2 separate regions of the Homo sapiens genome follow, and region 2 is linked to region 1. Evidence: fine-mapped expression QTL. Tissue or cell type: whole blood. Region 1 holds a variant in brackets; the other region holds the start of a gene. All regions are shown on one strand. Distances are from middle to middle.

What was found.
Region 2: it holds the start of MAP4, and the variant in region 1 is fine-mapped to the expression of MAP4 in whole blood (INTERVAL, PIP above 0.99).

What each region holds. Positions count from the first base shown.
Region 1 is chr3:48,052,422-48,064,092 of GRCh38, forward strand. It overlaps a transcript of MAP4 not described here. Among named protein-coding and RNA genes, the nearest start is that of MAP4, 42 kb to the left of the region's middle. The variant G/A (reference allele first, on the strand shown) is at 5,839.
Region 2 is chr3:48,009,835-48,021,505 of GRCh38, forward strand. It overlaps MAP4 (microtubule associated protein 4), which reads right to left and starts at 6,582. Exons shown (of 21, transcript NM_001385682.1): 1 at 6,500-6,582.

The DNA of each region.
Region 1 (11,671 bases):
ATATCGGTCGGGCTGGTCTTGAACTCCTGGCCTCAAGTGATCTACCCGCCTCAGCATCCCAAAGTGCTGGGATTACTGGTGTGAGCCACCGCGTCCTGCCTGAGTAATGAAAATGTTCTAAAACTGATTGTGGTAATGGATGCACAACTGTGAAAATACTGAAAACCACTGAACTGTACATTTTAAGTGGCTGAACTGTATGTTTTATAAATTGTATCTCAATAGAGCTATTCTTTTTAAAATTCAGATTCTGGACTCCACTCCAGATCTCATAAATTAGAATCAAAAGCAGAAAGCCAAAACTATTCTAAAATACCTTCCAGGATCACTAGGAGGACATTTGGGGTTCACAGCCAGACAGTGATGAACATCTCAAACCACAAGATGCACAGAACGGCTAAGAGGAAAATGAGCTTGCTGTGCACTACCCAATGGTTAACTGCTTGGAAAAATATGGAAACTGATAACGTGTTAAATATGTTCAATAACACATCTCAAATTTATGTCTAAGAACACATTTCAATTTCAACTCCATGTTAAGTTGAAAGGATAGCTTCCCAAATTATGACATATGTACCTTCACCTTTAAAGAAACAGAAACTAAAACAACTCCAAATATTATATGCTTTTACATCTACATTCATTCATTAAGTGGTTTTATAATTACTGGTTTTGAGTTATACTGCAGCTACTCACATCATAAGAAAAAGACAACATAAAGTACAAGAATAAACTTGAGTATAATTTTTAATTAGACCTGATGCATCAATCTGAATAGCTAATACCAAAAATCCTAAGCTATGAAATCTAAATTTCCCAATAAATCTGAACATCTGCAAGTATACCACATAGCAATTAGAAAAAACTGTACTATGGAAAAGATTTAAGTCGTTCTGGTTTCTGTTTTGCAAGTTCCAGCAGAAAACTAATGCTAGGGTTCATTGAAACAACACTGCTAGTATCTCCTATTTCCTCCAAGAACAAACAAGAAAGCCATTATTATCTCAAATGTTCTTCTGAAAAGTATAATGACCCTTCTTATAATATTATGGAAAATATGAACAAGAATTTTAATCAAAATAGCATTCGTAAAGCCACATGAACACTTTTATTTTTTTTATTTTTAAACTTTAAAATCTAAATACCTACCCAAATACCCAGTGTTTCTAAAACTAATGACTAAATCTGATTTACTTCTAACTCTCTCTAGTATATAAGTGATGTCTGAACTATGAGATTCATGTGAAAATGTACGTCGTTTATTTGTACATGATCTGTCTCTCAGGCACTCGACCTAGGGGAGTAACACATATTGATGATCTCCAGAATGTGCACATTACAACCTGATTGATACCAAATTGGTGCTATATTCATGCATTTATTAACAAGGAATGATGCTTATATCGAGCAAAAAGTTCATGAGTAGTATATATAGTTCTTATTTTCACAAGAAAAATATGTATATATATTCACAGGAAATGTCTAGAAGAATATATATGAAAATGTTATTCTCTTTTATAATTTTTGTGTTTCTAAATTATCTACATTAAATAAAACTTTTGCAAAAAGAAAAAATAAATGTCATTTTAAAAACATACCCAGCCAGGCATGGTGGCTCACACCTGTGATCCCAAAACTTTGGAAGGCCGAGGCAGGCAGATCATGAGGTTAAGAGACCAAGACCATCCTGGCCAACATGGTGAAACCCCATCTCTACTAAAAATACAAAAATTAGGTGTGGTGGCACGCACCTGTAGTCTCAGCAAGTCAGGAGGCTGAGGAAGGAGAATCACTTGAACCCAGGAGGCGGAGATCGCAGTGAGCCGAGATCGCGCCATTGCACTCCAGCCTGGCGAGAGAGCAAGACTCTACCTCAAAAAACAAAAAAAACAAAAAACAAAAACAAAAAATCAGCTGGAGCAGGCCAGGCACGGTGGCTCACGCCTGTAATCCCACTTTGGGAGGCCAAGGTGGGTGGATCATGAGGTCAGAAGTTCAAGACCAGCCTGGCCAACATAGTGAAACCCCGTCTCTACCAAAAATACAATAAAGTAGCTAGGATTACAGGTGTGGTGGCGGGCGCCTGTAATCCTAGCTACTCAGGAGGCTGAGGCAGGAGAATCACTTGAACTCGAGAGGCAGAGGTTGCAGTGAGCCGAGATCATGCCACTGCACGCCAACCTGGGCGACAGTGTAAGACTCCATCTCAAAAAAAAAAAAAAAAAAAAAAAAAAAAATTAGCTGGCCATGGTGGCGGGCTCCTGTAATCCCAGCTACTCAGGAGGCTGAGACACGAGAATCACTTGAAACCTGAAAGCAGAGGTTGCAGTGAGCCAAGATCATACCACTGCACTCCAGCCTGGGCGACAAAGCAAGACTCTGTCTCCAAAAAAAAAAAAGAAAAGAAAAGCCCCAACAAAAGTCAGTCTTCTTTAGCTAAAAGACCAAGAAAGTAGCAGTCTAGCAAGACAGAAAAGTTTTAGACAATAACCAATCTACCCCAGCCAAACACCAAGAAAATACTGTGGTTTAAAACCTACCCGTTCTAGCAAAGGCCAAGTGGGGAGCCTAGATTTCCAACCTCTCAAAGCTGTAATTAAGCACTCAATACCCCTTCCAAGGTGGAGACAGAAAGCCAAGTAGGGTATCCAGGAATTTCATCCCTGCAGACCAGTAACAAGATCAGCGGGGACCACGTGGGGAACCTGGGCCTCCACCATATTATATCAATACAAATGGCAGTTTCTTTAAAAAGTCTCCCTCTCCCTCTCCCTCTCCGTCTCCGTCTCCGTCTCCGTCTCCGTCTCCGTCTCCGTCTCCCCATGGTCTCCCTCTCATGCGGAGCCGAAGCTGGACTGTACTGCTGCCATCTCGGCTCACTGCAACCTCCCTGCCTGATTCTCCTGCCTCAGTCTGCCGAATGCCTGCGATTGCAGGCCCGCGCCGCCACGCCTGATTGGTTTTGGTGGAGACGGGGTTTCGCTGTGTTGGCCGGGCCGGTCTCCAGCCCCTAACCGCGAGTGATCCGCCAACCTCGGCCTCCCGAGGTGCCGGGATTGCAGACGGAGTCTCGTTCACTCAGTGCTCAATGGTGCCCAGGCTGGAGTGCAGTGGCGTGATCTCGGCTCACTACAACCTACACCTCCCAGCCGCCTGCCTTGGCCTCCCAAAGTGCCGAGATTGCAGCCTCTGCCCGGCCGCCACCCCGTCTGGGAAGTGAGGAGTGTCTCTGCCTGGCCGCCCATCGTCTGGGATGTGAGGAGCCCCTCTGCCTGGCTGCCCAGTCTGGAAAGTGAGGAGCGTCTCCGCCCGGCCGCCATCCCATCTAGGAAGTGAGGAGCGCCTCTTCCCAGCCGCCATCACATCTAGGAAGTGAGGAGCGTCTCTGCCCGGCCGCCCATAGTCTGAGACGTGGGGAGCGCCTCTGCCCCGCCGCCCCATCTGGGATGTGAGGAGCGCCTCTGCCCGGCCGAGACCCCGTCTGGGAGGTGAGGAGCGTCTCTGCCCGGCCGCCCCGTCTGAGAAGTGAGGAGACCCTCTGCCTGGCAACCACCCCGTCTGAGAAGTGAGGAGCCCCTCCGCCCGGCAGCTGCCCCGTCTGAGAAGTGAGGAGCCTCTCCGCCCAGCAGCCACCCCATCTGGGAAGTGAGGAGCGTCTCCGCCCGGCAGCCACCCCGTCCGGGAGGGAGGTGGGGGGGGGTCAGCCCCCCGCCCGGCCAGCCGCCCCATCCGGGAGGGAGGTGGGGGGTCAGCCCCCCCGCCCCGCCAGCCATGCCGTCCGGGAGGGAGGTGGGGGGGTCAGCCCCCCGCCTGGCCAGCCGTGCCGTCCGGGAGGGAGGTGGGGGGGTCAGCCCCCCGCCCGGCCAGCCGCCCCGTCCGGGAGGTGAGGGGCGCCTCTGCCCGGCCGCCCCTACTGGGAAGTGAGGAGCCCCTCAGCCCGGCCAGCCACCCCGTCCGGGAGGGAGATGGGGGGGTCAGCCCCCCCACCCGGCCAGCCGCCCCGTCCGGGAGGGAGGTGGGGGGGTCAGCCCCCCGCCTGGCCAGCCGCCCCGTCCGGGAGGGAGGTGGGGGGGGTCAGCCCTCCCCCCGGCCAGCCGCCCCGTCTGGGAGGTGAGGGGCGCCTCTGCCCGGCCGCCCCTACTGGGAAGTGAGGAGCCCCTCAGCCCCGCCAGCCGCCCCATCCGGGAGGGAGGTGGGGGGGTCAGCCCCCCGCCCGGCCAGCCGCCCTGTCTGGGAGGGAGGTGGGGGGGTCAGCCCTCCGCCCGGCCAGCCGCCCCGTCTGGGAGGTGAGGGGCGCCTCTGCCCGGCCGCCCCTACTGGGAAGTGAGGAGCCCCTCTGCCCGGCCAGCCGCCCCGTCCGGGAGGGAGGTGGGGGGGTCAGCCCCCCGCCCGGCCAGCCGACCCGTCCGGGAGGGAGGTGGGGGGGGGGTCAGCCCCCCTGCCCGGCCAGCCACCCCGTCCGGGAGGTGAGGGGCGCCTCTGCCCGGCCAGCCGCCCCGTCCGGGAGGGAGGTGGGGGGTTCAGCCCCCCGCCCGGCCAGCCGCCCCGTCCGGGAGGGAGGTGGGGGGGGTCAGCCCCCCTGCCCGGCCAGCCGCCCCGTCCGGGAGGTGAGGGGCGCCTCTGCCCGGCCGCCCCTACTGGGAAGTGAGGAGCCCCTCTGCCCGGCCACCACCCCGTCTGGGAGGTGTGCCCACTAGCTCATTGAGAACGGGCCAGGATGACAATGGCGGCTTTGTGGAATAGAAAGGCGGGAAAGGTGGGGAAAAGATTGAGAGATCGGATGGTTGCCGTGTCTGTGTGGAAGGAAGTAGACATGGGAGACTTTTCATTTTGTTCTGCACTAAGAAAAATTCCTCTGCCTTGGGATCCTGTTGATCTGTGACCTTACCCCCAACCCTGTGCTCTCTGAAACATGTGCTGTGTCCACTCAGAGTTAAATGGATTAAGGGCGGTGCAAGATGTGCTTTGTTAAACAGATGCTTGAAGGCAGCATGCTCGTTAAGAGTCATCACCAATCCCTAATCTCAAGTAACCAGGGACACAAACACTGCGGAAGGCCGCAGGGTCCTCTGCCTAGGAAAACCAGAGACCTTTGTTCACTTGTTTATCTGCTGACCTTCCCTCCACTATTGTCCCATGACCCTGCCAAATCCCCCTCTGTGAGAAACACCCAAGAATTATCAATAAAAAAATAAATAAATAAATAAATAAAAAAGAAAAAAAAGAAAAAAAAAAAAAAGTAAGCATGCGACTACCATATGGCCTAGCAACTGTACTCCTAGGCAAACTGCCGAACTATTTTTCAGAGTGGCTGTACCACTTTACTGTTAACTGTTTCAATGTCAATACCCTGGTTGTGATATTGTACCATGATTCTGCAAGAAATTTCCACCAGGGGAAACTGGGTAAAGTGTACAAGGGATATCTCTGTATTATTGTTTCTTACAATTGAATGTAAATCTATAATTATCTCAAAATTATTTTAAAAAACTGTGTTTAAAAACTAAATTAAAAAACACAAATATACTAAATATTTAGACTTAAGGCTGAACTATGAGTTACATATCCTTATATCCCAAGCACCTACACCAAAGCCTAGAACATATTAGACAATAAATATTTATTGAATTAGATTGAACATACAATCAGCACTTCAAAAATATAAGATGCTTACAAACCTAACAGTTCCATTTCGTTGGCTGTAAATAAAGTAACAATACCTTAAAACAAGTGCAAAAAAGTTACCTTCAAGAAAATATAAAGTATTCTGGAATTTTTTCAAAGAGAAAAATGACTCAGTCCTAGACTACAATGACTTAGATATTACCTCATTATTTT[G/A]GCTAATTTATTGTACGGAGAGAGGGAGGGAGGCCAGTAGGCCGGCTGGCCAGCCTGCGAGGCTTAAAAAGTACCATGTACATAATTTAAAAATTAGCATATAGTAGGGAGTCTTTAGAAACCAAGTAGCACACATAAATACTACACATACCCACCCACTTGCAAAGGTGTTTTAAGCCAAAAATCTTACTCTACGTGTCCAAGTTTCATCGGTATTTCTGATTTTCACTAGGTCTGGCTGAACAGGATTATGTCTTATCTTTTAGAGTAACTATCAGAACTGGTGATTATCTCCATCATCTATGAACACAGTCCTTTTCATCTGATAAAACTGGCATTCGGTAACAAGAAAGCATCTTATTTTACCAGAATGACCCAAGTAATTCATTAATTAAAGAAAAAAATGTATACAGGAATCTTTATTGTTGCTTTGGTTTGTTGGTTTTCTAAAACCAATAAAACAATTGTCTTTTCCTGCATAAACACCTGATTTGAAAATCTAGATACAATATTATTTTATTTTATTTTATTTATTTTTGAGATGAGGTCTTGCTCTGTCGCCCAGGCTGGAGTGCAATGGCACTATCTCGGCTCACTGCAACCTCCACCTCCTGGGTTCAAGTGATTCTCCCTGCCTCAGCCTCCGAGTAGCTGAGATTACAGGCGTGCACCACCACGCCCGGCTAATTTTTGTATTTTTAGTAGAGATGGGTTTCATCATGTGGGCCAGGCTGCTCTTGAACTCCTGACCTCAGGTGATCTGCCCTCCTTGGCCTCCCAAAGTGCTGAGATTACAGGTGTGAGCCACCGTGCCCGGCATTACAACATTATTTTAAACAGCCTTCATCATTAAGTAATGAAAGTGAAAGTAGAGTCAGCAGTCAGTAAAAACACTTTGTGATTGAATAATTCAAGTACAGAATTAACAGCCAAAACTACATGAACTGAACAGATAATGATAAAAACCCAATCAGGGCCAGGCACAGTGGCTCACACCTTAATCCCAACACTTTGGGAGGCCAAGGTGGGGAGATTGCCTGAGCTCAGTGGTTCGAGACCACCCTGGGCAACATGGTGAAACCCCGTTTCTACTAAAATACAAAAAATTAGCCAGGCATGGTGGCGTGCGCCTGTAGTCCCAGCTACCTGGGAGGCTGAGGCATGAGAATCACTTGAGCCTGGGAGGTGGAGGTTACAGTGAGCCGAGATCGTGCCACTGCACTCCAGCTTGGGCAACAGAGCAAGACTCCATCTCAAAAAAAAAAAAAAAAAAAAAAAAAAGACCTACTCAGGATAGCAACATTACAATAATGGCAAGCCATACTTATTTTGATCCTTTATGGTCCATATGAACACATGAAATCTTAATTATTTGAGAATTCAACAACTTTTGGGCTGGGTGCAGTGGCTCACACCTGTAATCCTAGCATTTTGGGAGGCTGAAGCGGGTGGCTCACGCCTGTAATCCTAGCACTTTGGGATGCTGAGGCAGGCGGATTGCCTGAGCTCGGGAGTTCGAGACCACCCTGGGGGCAACATGGTGAAACCCCATCTCTACTAAAATACAAAAAATTAGCCGGCTTGGTGGTACACACCTGTAATCCCAGCAACTCAGGAGGCTGAGGCAGGAGAATTGCTTGAACCTGGAGGATGCAGTGGGCTGAGATTGTGCCACTGCACTCTGGCCTGGGCCACAGAGTGAGACTCTGTCTCAAAAAAAAAAAAAAACTTTTGAACATCTCTCTCTTAAACCTCTGGCCTTTAAAATCCCAATCATATCACATTTAATATACATGGGTTATTAAATGGGTTCAGGAATTGTTAGTCTGCAGTAGAACTCTGCAACAAACAATAAACAGTTTCATCACCAAAAGGTACCTGGATGTAATCTCAATTAGTAAAAACTCAGTCACTCATATGTCACTGACATATTTCCTTTGGACAAGGCAACTCATTCTGTTGATCTTTCTCAGCCACTATGAAGTTTATCACTCATGCCTGTAAATGGTACATGGTCATGAACTGCTACAGAATAAAGTCCAAGAGAACCCACCAAAACTGTGGAAGATTAAAAGATTGATGGATCATTAAAAAAAAATGGATTATAGACCTAAATGTAAGATACGAAACTATAAAACTCCTAGAGGATAACATAGAAGAAAATCTAGGTGACCTAGGGTTTGGCAATGACTTCTTAGATACAACCCCAAAAACATGATGTAGGAAAGAAAAAACTGATAAGCTGGACTTTACTGAAGTTAAAAATTCTGATCTGCAAAATACACTGCTAAGAGAATAGAAACTCAACAGATTGGGAGAAAATATTTGCAAAACACATCTCTGACAAAGAACTGGTATCCAAAATATACAGAGGCCAGGCGCAGTGGCTCACGCCTATAATCCCAGCACTTTGGGAGGCCGAGGGAGATGGATCACAGGAGCCCAGGAGTTCAAGACCAGCCTGGGCAACGTGTCGAAACCCTGTCTCTACAAAAAAAAAAATAATAATAATACAAAAAAAATGTAGCCAGTCTTACAACCCAATCTCAAAATAAATAAAAAATTAAAAACGAAACAAAATATACAAATAACTTTTTTTATTTTTGAGACGGAGTCTCACTGTCGCCCAGGCTGGAGGACAGTGGTGCGATCTCGGCTCACTGCAAGCTCCGTCTCCCAAGTACACGCCATTCTCCTGCCTCAGCCTCCCAAGTAGCTGGGACTACAGGTACCCGCCACCACGCCCGGCTAATTTTTTTGTATTTTTAGTAGAGATGGGGTTTTACCACATTAGCCAGGATGGTTTCAATCTCCTGACCTCGTAATCCACCCACCTCGGCCTTCCAAAGTGCTGGGATTACAGGCGTGAGCCACCGCGCCTGGACCCAAAGAGCTCTTAAAATTTAATATGAAAATGAACACCTCCCCCTCCCCCTCCCCCTCTCCCTCTCCCTCTCTTTCCACGGTCTCCCTCTGATGCCGAGCCGAAGCTGGACTGTACTGCTGCCATCTCTGCTCACTGCAACCTCCCTGCCTGATTCTCCTCCCTCAGCCTGCCGAGTGCCTGCGATTGCAGGCACGCGCCGCCACGCCTGACCGGTTTTCGTATTTTTTTGGTGGAGACGGGGTTTCGCCTGTTGGCCGGGCTGGTCTCCAGCTCCTAACTGCGAGTGATCTGCCAGCCTAGGCCTCCTGAGGTGCCGGGATTGCAGATGGAGTCTCGTTCACTCAGTGCTCAATGTTGCCCAGGCTGGAGTGCAGTGGCGTGATCTCAGCTAGCTACAACCTCCACCTCCCAGCCGCCTGCCTTGGCCTCCCAAAGTGCCAAGATTGCAGCCTCTGCCCGGCCGCCACCCCGTCTGGGAAGTGAGGAGCGTCTCTGCCTGGCCGCCCATCGTCTGGGATGTGAGGAGCCCCTCTGCCCGGCAGCCGCCCCGTCTGGGAAGTGAGGAGCGTCTCCACCCGGCAGCCGCCCAGTCCGGGAGGTGGGGGGCAGCCCCCGCCCGGCCAGCCGCCCCGTCCGGGAGGGAGGTGGGGGGCAGCCCCCACCCGGCCAGCCGCCCCATCCGGGAGGGAGGTGGGGGGCAGCCCCCGCCCGGCCAGCCACCCCGTCCGGGAGGTGGGGGGCGCCTCCGCCCGGCCGCCACCCCGTCCGGGAGGTGGGGGGCACCTCTGCCCAGCCGCCCCTTCTGGGAAGTGAGGAGCCCCTCTGCCTGACCGCCACCCCGTCTGGGAGGTGTACCCAACAGCTCACTGGGAACGGGCCATGATGAGGATGGCGGTTTTGTCGAGTAGAAAGGGGGGAAATGTGGGGAGAAGATGGAGAAATCAGATTGTTGCTGTGTCTGTGTGGAGAGAAGTGGGCATAGGAGACTCCATTTTGTTCTGTACTAAGAAAAATTCTTCTGCCTTGGGATGCTGTTGATCTATGACCTTACCCCCAACCCGGTGCTCTCTGAAACATGTGCTGTGTCCACTCAGGGTTAAATGGATTAAGGGCGGAGCAAGATGTGCTTTGTTAAACAGATGCTTGAAGGCAGCATGCTCCTTAAGAGTCATCACCACTCCCTAATCTCAAGTACCCAGGGACACAAACACTGCGGAAGGCCGCAGGGTCCTCTGCCTAGGAAAACCAGAGACCTTTGTTCACTTGTTTATCTGCTGACCTTCCCTCCACTATTGTCCTATGACCCTGCCAAATCCCCTTCTGCGAGAAACACCCAAGAATGATCAATAAAAAAAAAAAAAAAAAAAAAAACATCACTATGTACCCCATGACTATGTACAATTGTTATCTGTCAATTAAAAATAAAATAATGTTTAAAAAATAAAAAAATTTAAAAAATTAAAAATAAATTAAAAAAAAGAAAATGAACAATGTGGCTGGGCGTGGTGGTTCACGCCTGTAATCCCAGCACTTTGGGAGGCTGAGGCGGGCAGATCACCTGAGGTTGGGAGTTCGAGACCAGCCTGACCAACATGAAGAAACCCCATCTCTACTAAAAATACAAAAAATTAGCCAGGCGTGGTGGCACATGCCTGTAATCCCAGCTACTCGGGAGGCTGAGGAAGGAGAATCACTTGAACCTGGGAGGCGGGAGGTTGTTGTGAGCCAAGATCGTGCCATTGCACTCCAGCCTAGGCAACAAGAGTGAAACTCTGTCTCAAAAAAAAAAAAAAGAAAGAAAATGAACAACCCCATTTTAAAAATAGGCAAAAGATCTGAACAGACACTTCACCAACGATATACGAATGGCAAATAAGCATATGAACGAAAAGATGTTCAATAACATATGTCATCAGAGAATTGCCAATTAAGACAACAATAATTCTGACAACCGTGGTTAAAAGAAATTATTAATAAGAAAAAAAGACTTCAAATTCATTAAAAAAAAAAAAGACAACAATGAGATGCCACCGTGTCCGTATCAGAATGGCCAAAATCCAAAGCACAACACCAAGTGCTGACAAGGATGTCAAACAATAGGAAATCTCATTCATTGCTAGTGGAAATGCAAAATGGTACAGCCAGCAAGGTGAGCTGGAATCACCTATAGTCCCAGCTACTCAGGACGCTAAGCCAAGAGGATTGCTTGAGCCCAGGAGATGAGTCTAGCCTGAACAACATAGCGAGACCTGTGTCTTAAAAAAAAAAAAAAAAAGTTATACCCAGTTTGGGAGGTTCTTACAATACTAAACATACTCTCTCACCACACAATCCAGCAATTGCACTCCTTGATATTTACCCAAAGATGAAAACTCATGTCAACACAAAAACCTACATGTGGACATTTATAGTAGCTTTATTCACAATTGCCAAAACTTGGAACCAACTAGGATGCCTTTAATAGGTGAATGGATAAGCAAATTGTAGTGTACCCAGACAATGGAATACTATTCAGCAATAAAAAGAAATGAGCCATCAAGCCACAAAAAGACATTGAGAAACCTCAAATGCATATTGCTAGGTGAAAAAAAAGCCAATCTGAAAGGCTATATACTGTATAATTCTAACTATACGACATTGTGAAAAAGGCAAAACTATGAAGACAGAAAGATATTAGTGGTTACAGTAGTTAAGGGGAAGAAGTAGGGATAAATAGGTGGAGTACAGGGGATTTTTAGGGCAGTGAAACTATTCCATATACATATTATTATGAAACCATCTTTGCAAAAATTATAACTGAGACAATTATTACAGTGAAAGAGATCTGATCTAACCAACTCCATCCTGCTTCTAACCTCCCAGCTGTCCTTGTTCATTCCTAGACTTAGCCCAAACTAACTTTGTTTGGGAGGAACTTAGTTTACAGTTTAGGTTAGTTTTCCCAGA
Region 2 (11,671 bases), 43 kb before region 1:
TTCCAGAGGGAAGAATGCTGCCACCAGGAGACACAACAATGATTCCATTAAACTGGAAGTTAAGATTGTCACCTGGACACTTTGGGCTCCTCCTCCCTTTAAGTCAACAGGCTCAGAGGGGGAGTTACAGTGTTGGCTAAGGTGACTGACCCAGACTATCAAGATGAAATCAGTCTACAACTTCACAACGGAAGTAAGGAAGAGTATGCATGGAATACATGAGACCCATTAGGGCATCTCTTCGTATTACCATGCCCTGTGATTACTGTCAATGCAAAACCACAACAGCCAAATCCAGGCAGGACTACAAATGATCCGGACCATTCAGGAATGAAGGTTTGGATCACTCCACCAGGAAAAAAACCCATGACCTGCTGAGGTATTTGGGGAAGGCAAAGTTAATACAGAATGGGTAGAAGAAGGTAGTCATCAATACCAGCTATGACCACGTGACCAGCTGCAGAAATGAGGACTGTAACTGCCATGAGTATTTCCTCCTTCATTTGTTAAAAACATGTTTGTGTATGTATACACATGTACTAATATCTTCACTTTATATTTCCTTTTCCTTTATCATGTGACATAAGATTTATTGATTTCATAACAGCATTTAAGTATTATTAACTTTATGTAATAGTATTTGGGTTGGGGATTGGTGTGTTTCTGGTTGTATGAAGGATAGTTTTATTACATTAGGTGTAATTATGACCTTATTATTGTCTTTATTTTAAGATTACATACGATCTCAGATGTATATGGGTTCAAGTTGACAAGGAGTGGACTTGTAATGTTAATACTGTCAACTTGATTGGACTGAAGGATGCAATATTGATCCTGGGTGTATCTGTGAGGGTGTTGCCAAAGGAGATTAACATTTGAGTCAGTGGGCTGGGGAAGGCAGACCCACCCTTAACTGGGTGGGCACCATCTAATCAGCCACCAGCGAATATAGAGCAGGAAGAAAAACATGAAGAGATGGGCCTAGCCTCCCAGCCTATATCTTTCTCCCGTGCTGGATGCTTCCTGCCCTCGAACATCGGACTCCAAGTTCTTCATTTTGGGGACTCGGATTGGCTCTCCTTGCTTCTCAGCTTGCAGACAGCCTACTGTGGGACCTTGTGATCACGTAAATCAATACTTAATAAACTCTCCTTTGGAGATATATCCTATTAGTTCTGTCCCTCTAAGAGAATCCTGACTAAAACAAGTAGTGTGGGGCTCGTGACAAAAACTGATAGCTTTGCTGCCAAAGGGGCTCCTGTGGCATGACAGAGCTGTTGTCCACAGCAAATGCCATCTCACACTACTGGAATTATAAATTCCACTATTTGAATAACCACTGCCGAATTCAGGATTTAGCAGCTTTTCTGAAGGAACCATAAATAGGAATTCAATGGTTCCTATAGTAGGAACTGGACTTGGTAATCCCAGCCTGTAATCTCCCAGCACTTTGGGAGGCCAAGGCGGGTGGATCACTTGAAGCCAGGAGATTGAGACCAGCCTGGCCAACACAGTAAAACCCTATCTCTACTAAAAATACAAAAACAGAATAACTAGCTGGGCACTGATTTTTATTATTTAGATGGTATGCACCTGTAATCCCAGCTACTCAGGAGGCTGAGGCAGGAAAATTGCTTGAACCCAGGAGGTGGAGGCTGCAGTGAGCCAAGATCACGCCACTGCACTCCAGCCTACGTAACAGAGCAAGACTCCGTCTCAAAAAAAAAAAAAAAAGTTCCTATAGTAGTAGTGGCACACCTGTGACCCATTTACAACAGACGAATGTGGGTGGGAAGCCCTATTCTATGCTCGTCCAGCCTACTTTACATATAAAGTATTATTGTAACTCCAGATCATGACAGGGAAAATGCTGAGAAATGAGTTCATTAAAGAGCTTTTAAAAGCCTAACAGATTATAATGTCAAAGGGTTCCATGAAAAGCAACTATTCAGTTGCTTTTACTATTCGGTTATGCCATTTCCCTATTCTATCTCTGACAACTATTATTAGTAGTTATCCTTTGGGAGCTGTTATGAACCAAAAACTAAAAAGGACGTCTGTAACTAGTTTTGATAGAGGCAAGAGGCAAACAAATGTCTAGGCAGACAGGGGCGGGTCCTCAGTGAAACCCGAACTTTAATCCGGAAACTGTCCTGGGTAAATCCTGAGATCGGATTAAGAACCTGCCTTCCCGTTTGGCATGATTGATCCCCATCCTTCACCTATTTAACCTGTACCTACCCTTTCCTAATTGGTTTTCTACACTGTCCTGCCCACCTTGGAGTGGTGTCTTCGCTTTGACCTTTTTTGCATACTCACAAACCAATGACCACACACTCCCATTCTGAACCAATAAAGAGCCCCAGGCTCAGCCATATTACGGAACTTTCCTGTCTTCAGGTAGTAGAACCACCTACCATGTTCTCTCTTTTTGCTAAGAGCTTTCCTTTCGATTAATAGATTCTACTCCACTCACTCTTTGATGTCCACGTGCCTAATTCTTCCGCTCCTGAGATAAGAACCTGGACCTAGTTGAGCTAAGGAGCAAAAATCCTGCATCAGTTTCATGGTCAAAGAGAACTTAAAAGGACATCTGTGCCATCCTTAACAACATACCATAAAAATCCAAAATTTAATTTTCCCCAGAAATACATAATGACATAAGATGCAATCTACTCAAATCTTTTCCTCATTTAAGGCACAGGGTAAAAATACAGTCAAAAACACCAATACATTTTAAATATCATTTATCAGAATGCAGATTATCAAAGGGCAGCTTTTATCCATTGTAATCTTTCCCCTATCCAACCCTCAGCACCCCCACCCCGCCCCCAGCCACACACTCTCAGATGACTTCCTGGGCTGCATGTGGTTCATGGAATATGAACAGTAGCTGAAATTCAGCCTAAGAGGGTAAAACTGATAGAAAATTATACAATTGGAAAGTGGGAAGGTCATGAAGCTATGAGCACATCTAGCTAGCCACTTAGCATCTGTATTTCATCAACAGTTAAGCTATTCTTTACTTGTCACCACATAAATAGAATATGATTTTAAAATACACACACACACCCCCTTATGGAAAATGATCCTAGAAAGGTAATGCTAGTGTCATCTTTCAAGTTAAAGTACTGTTGTTTTTTTTTTCCCAGAAATCCCCAGTTTTCAATAAATTAAAGCGATTATCCAATTTTATAGTTATTTTATTCTGAAACATGTATAAGTACAATACACTCTTTAAATGCTCTATAGATGTTAAACTGGTTCAAGTATTCCAAAATTAATTTTAATAAATTCATGTATGAATTTCATCTCACACAGAATCACTTGAAGTTACTTACTATTCGGTTATGCCTTAAATGCTTAGTTACATATTTTATGGATAAAAGGATATGACACTATTATTTTCAAATCTGGATGTTCAGGAGGATCAAAAAATGAACCCTTGTGAATGAGAAGCATTTACTCTAAAAAAAAAACCTCTCACTGACCAATTGACCATTTATACTATTCCTCTTCTATCCATACAGATAATAAAGTTAACTTTAAATAGATTTGTGAGTAAGAGTCAAGAGAATTTGAAAGCTGGGTACAGAAGTCTGTATGCTTTACTGAAGCACCAGTTTAATCTGACACTCACTGTGGCCTTGAATGAGTCACCTTTCAGGGCTGAGTTCTCTAATCTGTAAAATGAGAGTGTTATGTTAAATGTTTACTGAGGTTGATTATTCTATCAGCTACTTGTAATTCAGCTGCATCATTTCAGTTAGCTATAAATAAACCCCCTAAGACCCTCAGTGTGAATATGAACAACTATCATTTCATATTATTTCATATATCAAGTATTCTCATTTATAATTGGGTTGAGGTTTATTAAAAAAAAAAAAAAAAGCTTTTTGGCAAAGGGAGGGACTGAAAACAAATTCACCACTGCATGGTGCCCTGCTTGAGCCAATCTGACTGGAGCTTAAGAAACTCCACCCAGTTCTGGCTAACATCAAAGGAGACTCAACACCACTCTGCCAGAAAATAAGCCCTGTATTATCTAACCAGGCACTAAGGGAACACACAGTTTTCAAGCACAGCACTTTGTATATCTGATCTTTCATTCTGATGACATGCCTGAAGTGAAACTATTAGTGAGCCGGGTTTTTTAAAATAGGTAAACTAAGGCAAGAGGCAACTACATGGCATGATGATAAAATACTCTCTTGACTACAATCTCACTATTAAGAGCTAGGTGCTCATAAACAGGAAATAAGGATATATGATGAGGCCACAGTACTTTGTTGTATGCTTTACTTTGGATAGTTCACAAACTCTGGAATTAATTACTGTACTAAAAATATTTTACAGGTCTATACAGATTAAACAGTGTTAATATCTAACTTAATTACACAGAAGTTCTGAAGAACCTTTTAAGCTCCATGAAGTCCTCCTGAAAATTTTAGGTCATTCGCATCTAGAGCCACTCACTCGGGGTCTGTGCTCATTCTGTCTGATGAGAAATTGGCAATCTGGTTTACCAATGGCCTGTTGCTGTCTCTGTCCTCTTCTATTCACCCCTTGAAAGGTGCTACTATGGGAGCTAAAATGCAGGGAAAAAACTCATGAAAAGCTAGAACAGAGCTTGGGCAAAATGGCAAAACCCCATCTCTACAAAAACATGTAAAAATTAGCCAGGCATGGTGGCACATGCCTGTAGTCCCTGCTACTCAGGAGGCTGAGGTGGGAGGACTGATTGAGCCCAGGAGGTTGAGGCTGCAGTGAGCCACTATTGCACCACTGCACTCCGGCGTGGGCAACAGAGTGAAACCCTGACTCAAAAAAAAAAAGCAAGAACAGAAGCCTGATTCCCACCATCATACTCACTTTTCCTAACCACTGTGTTAGGAAACCTTCATTTTACTGTGTCACATTAGCCAAATTTCTACCGACATTCATTTGCAGTAGCCAGCATTCTCTTTTTAAAAGTATAGAATCCTATTTCTTAATTTAAAAGTGGGTAAGAAAATGTACATCCCTGGAAAGACCATTGTTCATCCCAGAGATGGTTCTATTGAAGATGTCTGAGTTCTTGGTTCTGGTGTGAAAAAGGAAGAAAAATATTATGGCAACATGGGAACTTTCAGGGAATAAAGCAGATATAGATATGGTATCAAAGTAGGGAAAGGGTATACAGGCCCAGGAGCCCTAGGAGGCAAAAGAAAGGGAGTTAATACCATGCCAAAGACAAGCTTGCTATCTTTCAAAATATCGCCTCCTGTCAGTTTCAGCAGAAAGAAATAAACTTTCTTCTCAGTGACCTAGGCTACTTTGAGGCAAATCATTTTGAGTTCCAAACAACCCATTTAATAAACTTTAAATAATTATTACTAAAGGTAGGATACTGCTTATAATGCTCACTTATATTTTCTCTATAACTGATAGCCTGTCCTTTTTGGGTGGGTGGGGGCGGGGGCGGTTATGGACAAGACAAGGAACCATAAAGATATCTGGGTTAATGTTTTCTTTTATACGTTTGTTTTTGCATGACATTTAAATGACAGAGAATTCTAAAGCCAACACTAAGCTGCTATCCTAGGACATTAGTGAGAATGCTGTGGCCAAAATATAGTGCTCATTCCTCAGGCTTGAAAGGAACCCCACGTCGCCAGTGTGGGAGATCATTTATAATCTTGATGGATACAGGTATAGCCTGCTTCATAATAATTTAATATTCAACATCAGATTTTTTTTTAGTATGCCTAGCAGGTTTTTAGTTACTAATTAACTTTATTACCCAGATTTGTTTCTTACTGAACTTCTTTCAGAGGCCTGTTATACATCAAGCTGAACTTTGTCTGGCAGCTGTGCTGTTTTTAATTTATTTAACCACAAAACCTTGATTTATACTTTCAAGCAAAATGATATTTTACTTAAAAATAAATCTTTAGCAAGGATGTCTACAGGAATCAACTACCAACTTACACAGTTCACAGACACATATGATTCCTCAGACAAATCTGAATTTCTCCTGCTTCTCCTCCAAACCAGACTTGCAGATAGCAACAGACAACTGAGGAAGATCTTGACTATCCTGAGCAATAAACTACAACCCCCCTGAAGAATATATTAACTGTCCACCCCTAGGTTCCTCCCTACACAGTTCAAGGACAACAGCTGTGCTATTACAAACTGATGGAATTTCCAGGCTTGACAGGGTTCTGTTCGTAACCACCATTTGTCCTGTTCATCATAGGATTAGCAACAGCAGAGAGCCCTTGATTACTAGAATAGCTGAGGCCATCACACAGCTACATTCCTACATGAAAGAACACACTGATATAGGTTTAAAGAAGTTATATTTTACTTTCATGTAGTTACCAGAGTCCCCCCCACCCCCCATTTAAGGGAGCCCTGTTCTCTGGATATAAAAATACTGTATACACTTGCACACACATACTCACATACATAAAACCTTGCATCACAAAGTTAAAAGGCTACCTTGCTTACTTACAGGAACTATCCAGGCAGCTTGTGTTCAGTCCTGACTAAATGCATTTTGGATCAGGCACCTGCCTTCAACATTTCTGTCCAAATGAATTTCAATCTATTTCTCCAGGAAGAACACACCAGATACCTCCCACTGTTAGCCATGTGATACAGGCAGCATGATGTCTGAAGTCTGGTTACGGTTATGTAGGCCAAAATAAGAAATGACAATGACACAGCACTTACATTTCTGATATCACCAACCTTAAGAATGAATCTTCCATTTTATCTAAATTTTTTAAATGAGTAAAACTTTAAAAGATTCTTAATACCTAACCCCTCAAAATTTTGAAAAAGGAGCATTTTTTTTAAACTTTACATTTATCCCACTTCCTTCCTCTAACACAGGAAAACATTCAGAGTTAATCTATACCAATCCAAAAATTATTTCTAACCACATTCTAAAGGCATTTTTTTTTTTTTTGAGACAGGGTCTTGGCCTGTTGCCCAGGCTGGAGAATGCAGTGGCATGATCTCAGCTCACTACAACCTCCGCCTCCTGGGTTCAAGTGATTCTCCTAACTCAGCCTCCTGAGTAGCTGCGATTGCAGGCATGCACACCACCATGCCTGGCTAATTTTTGTATCTTCAGTAGAGACGAGGTTTCATCATGTTGGCCAGACTGGTCTCAAACTCCTGGCCTCAAGTGATCCACCCATCTTGGCCTCCCAAAGTGCTGGGATTACAGGCATGAGCCACCATGCCTGGCTCTAAAGGCTTACACCAGTTGAACTGATCTAGGATCCAATCCCCTCACTTTAATAGATGGAAAAAAAAATGAGAAATGGAAAAAACAAGTCACTTACAAATGAGGCTGAGACAAAGGATCGGCGAAAAGAGCCACAGAACACCAAAAACAGAAGCAGAGCGTGACAAAATAAGCAAAACCTTACAGTTTTGTAGTTTCTGCTTTTATCTAACACAATGACTTCGCTGTACTTCATATACCTTTTGAATTATACCTGCTTATACATACCTTTACCTACCTACTACTTATACCTACCTATCTTTTCTTCTGCAAGGAGGGAGGCAGGCAGGAAGAATCCTGAACATCAGGAAAACATTCCACCTGATCTTTAAAGGGACCCCAATGCCTAGATGTCTTTTTCTTTTTTCTTTTTTTTTTTTTTTGTAAATCCAAACTCTTACGTGTAATATCAAGGCTGACTGACAAGACTCAGTCCTATCACCCACCATAATCATCAGCAGCTTTCCATGTAGGGTCTCCCTACAATTTAGTCACATGGGACCATCTACCATCTTACATTATCACTGTACACCCTATGCTCATTTGCTCTCCAAACTTGAAGTTATCTTCTCTCCCTCCTCATTTGTGAAAGTCTTGAAATCAAGGTCCACATAAATTGTCTTACCACCTTTTCTGTGACTGCTTTTTAGAATCTTTCTCCCAGTAGTATTCAGAACTAATACATCATCTGTACTTGTAACAGTAGAGTCTGATCTATACTGTAGTTCAGTGGTCCCCAAACCTTTTGGCACCAGGGACAGGTTTCGTGGAAAACAATTTTTCCACAGATAGCAGGAGGGGTGAGAGGGAGGAGATGGTTTCGGGATGAAACTCTTCCACCTCCGATCATCAGTCATTAGATTCTCACAGGAGCATGCAACCTAGATCCATCGCATGTGCAGTTCACAATAGGGTTTGCGCTCCTATGATAATCTAAAACCACTGCTGATCTGACAGAAGGCAGAACTCAGGCACACTTATCGCAAAGTTAATGTAATGCTGTTCACCTGCTGCTCACCTCCTGCCGTGCAGCCCAGTTCCTAACTGGCCATGGACTGGTACCAATCTACAGACCGAGGGTTGGGGACCCCCCACTGTAGTTAGTTGTATATACCAGCTCCTGTAAACTGCTGGGTCCCAGAAGAGAGGACCACATCAAAGTGATGTGCACACCTTCTCTGTTCCTAGTAGACTACAGAGGAGACAGGCCAAAATGATAAAAACCAACAAAACAAGGGGCTAAAAACACATTTCTAAAATGACACGATGAAAGTTATTAGAAATTGAATCTAATTTGAAATTAATCAGAAGTTCCAAAATTACAAAAACTCTTCACAACTAGAAAAAGAATAAACAGATTCAAGGCTGAAAGGTTATCACCAATTACAAATATTCACCTTGGCTAGGTGTGGTGGCTCATGCTTGTAATCCCAGCACTCAGCACTTTGGGAGGCTGAGGTGGGTGGATTATGAGGTCAAGAGATTGAGACCATCCTGGCCAACAAGGTGAAACCCCTCTCTACTAAAAATACAAAAATTAGCCGGGCGTGGTGGTGTGCACCTGTAGTCCCAGCTACTCGAGAGGCTGAGGCAGGAGAATCACTTGAACCTGGGAGGTGGAGGTTGCAGTGAGCCAAGATCGTGTCACTGCACTCCAGCCTGGGTGACAGAGTGAGACTCTGTCTCAAAAAAATAAAAATAAAAAAGAATATTCACCTATTTTCTTCCACTTTCTAAACACAGTTTGTACAAGAGCAAGCATGTTGTCTGGAATTATAGAAAGAAAGCCAGTAAGGAGTAACCGTACGAACCAGCTCTCCATGCTGGTCATCTTATCATTATTAGGCATAGCAATAAAAATAGCTCTCTCTGCTTTTAGAAAAGCATGACATGATGCAATGTGGCAAAAACAAATATTCAAGATGGTCGACCAGTTACTGGCCTGGCATGGTGACTCACACCTGTAATCCCAGAACTCTGGGAGGCCAAAGCAGGAAGACCACTTGAGCCCAGGAATTCAAGACTAGCCTGGGCAAGATGGCAAGACACCATCTCTACAAAAAAAAATGTTTTTAATTAGCTGGGCATGGTGGTGTGTGCCTGTAGTGCCAGCCTCTCAGGAGGCTGAGGCAGTAGGATTCCTTGAGCCCAGGAGCTTGAGGATGCAGTGAGCTATGATTACAACACTGTACTCCAGTCTGGGCGAGAAAGTGAGACCACATCTCTGAGGGACAGAGAGAGAAAGAGAGAAAGATATCAGCCACTACCATCATGTTAATATGATCATATAAATATTAAAACTTTATAATTATTAAAATATTAAATCTCTATAGTTATCAGCTCATATATCTGTCAGAAAGTAATAAGCATATCATGTAACTTTAGGATGACTTAGTGCTGAGGAGATTGGAAGAAAGGAAGAATATTCATACTTGATCAGCTCTTAGCTTTTGAGAACTATTTTATTAAAGAAAAAACTCTCTTTTGGCTGGGCATGGTGGTTCATGCCTATAATCCCAACATTCTGGAAGGCTGAGGCAGGAAAACTGCTTGAGCCCAAGAGTACAAGACCAGCCTGGGCAACACAGTTGAGACTGCGTCTCCACAGAAAACATTTTAAAATTAGCCTGCACACCTGTGGTCCCAGCTCTTGGGAGGCTGAGGTGGACGGATCACTTCAGCAGAGGAAGTTCAAGGCTGCAGTGAGCCGTGATAGCACCACTGCACTCCAGCCTGGGCTACAGAGTGAGGCCCTGTCTTGAAAATAATAGATAACAAAAGAAAAACTTCTCCCATTAAGCAAAGTGAAGTTTCACTCTATTTTATATCAGTGAAAATAAAGAAAAGTGGAAGGTAGAAGAGGACATAGGAATTTGTGCTGCCAATTCTATAATTTTTGTTTTGTTTTGTTTTTTGTGGGGTTTTTGAGACGGAGATTTTTGTATTTTTAGTAGAGACAGGGTTTCACCATGTTAGTCAGGCTGGTCTTGAACTCCTGACCTCAAGTGATTCGCCTGCCTCAGCCTCCCAAAGTGTTGGGATTACAGGTGTGAGCCACCATGCCCACCCTTGTAATTGTTTATTTACAATGTGTGTCCCACCCAGAGTTCCCCTTAACGCTTGAGTTCCTCGATGGCTAGGATAGCATCTTTCTCACCTTTTATCCTGGACATCTAAATATAATAAACTTGAAACCTCACAGGCTCTCATTAAATGCACATTTGTCCTGCTAGGTGCGCTCTGCTCCATACCATACCAGCCTTCTCTTGCTGGGGTTGATGTTTGCACAGCTGGAAGCACCCTCATAGTTCTTCTAAGTATTGGTTCTAGGCACGACTAAGGGTAGAGTAGCTCAGCTTTTCTGAGCAAGAAGGAGAAGATACAAACTCTATGGGAGTACTTAACAAGCATTTTGTAGTCGTGGCAAAGGCCTTACTTTGACCTAATATCTTACAGATGCTTTCAAAAAGGAGGGGGGGAATATCATTATTAAATGAAAATTGAACAGCAAAAGTTGAAGAGATCTTTCAAGTTATTAGTAACATAACTTTTAATATTTTACCTGAAATACAAGTAAAAATCTGAATTAAAAGTATTAAAAAAACAAAAAAAACACGCTGGATCAGAATTGTTCAGGGACAGGGTTAAGCAATATGAGTATTATTTGTTGTTGTTGTTTTGTTTTTTTTAGAGACAAGTCACACTATGTTGCCCAGGCTGGAGTGCATTGGCTAGTCACAGGTGTGCTCATTGTACACTACAGCTTCAAGCTCCTGGGCTCAAGCGATCCTCCAGCCTCAACCTCCCAGGTAGCTGAGACTAGAAGCATGTGCTACTGCACCAAAAATCTCAGTGTTGTTGGTTTTCTTGCAGTAAGGGTAATCATGACACAGAGAAATCTCATTAAAGTTGAGTCCGAGAGGCACCCACAATTGAGGGTCACTGAATTAATCAACAATCTACCTAATCCATTCAAGATAAAATTCACTGAAATGAAATGCAACACAGGATTAATACAACTTAACAATAGAAAGACATCACACTCCCCCTTGTTAGGAAGGTGTTTTAGAATCAGTTTACTAGATGTAGAATCTGAGGCACGGATTTTTGTACAAGTGATTTACTAAGGGAGTGCTTTTAGGAAAAACCTATAAGGTTTTATTTTATTTTAAGGTTTTATGATATTTTAAAGGTATCAACTATCCCCAAACTAATCTATAGTTTTTGTTTGTTTTTGTTTTTTTTTTTAGACAGAGTCTCACTCTGTTGCCCAGGCTGGAGTGCAGTGGCACATGATCTTGGCTCACTGCAACCTCCGCCTCCCAGGTTCAAGCAATTCTCCTGCCTCAGCCTCCTGAATAGCTGGGACCACAGGCGTGCGCCACCACA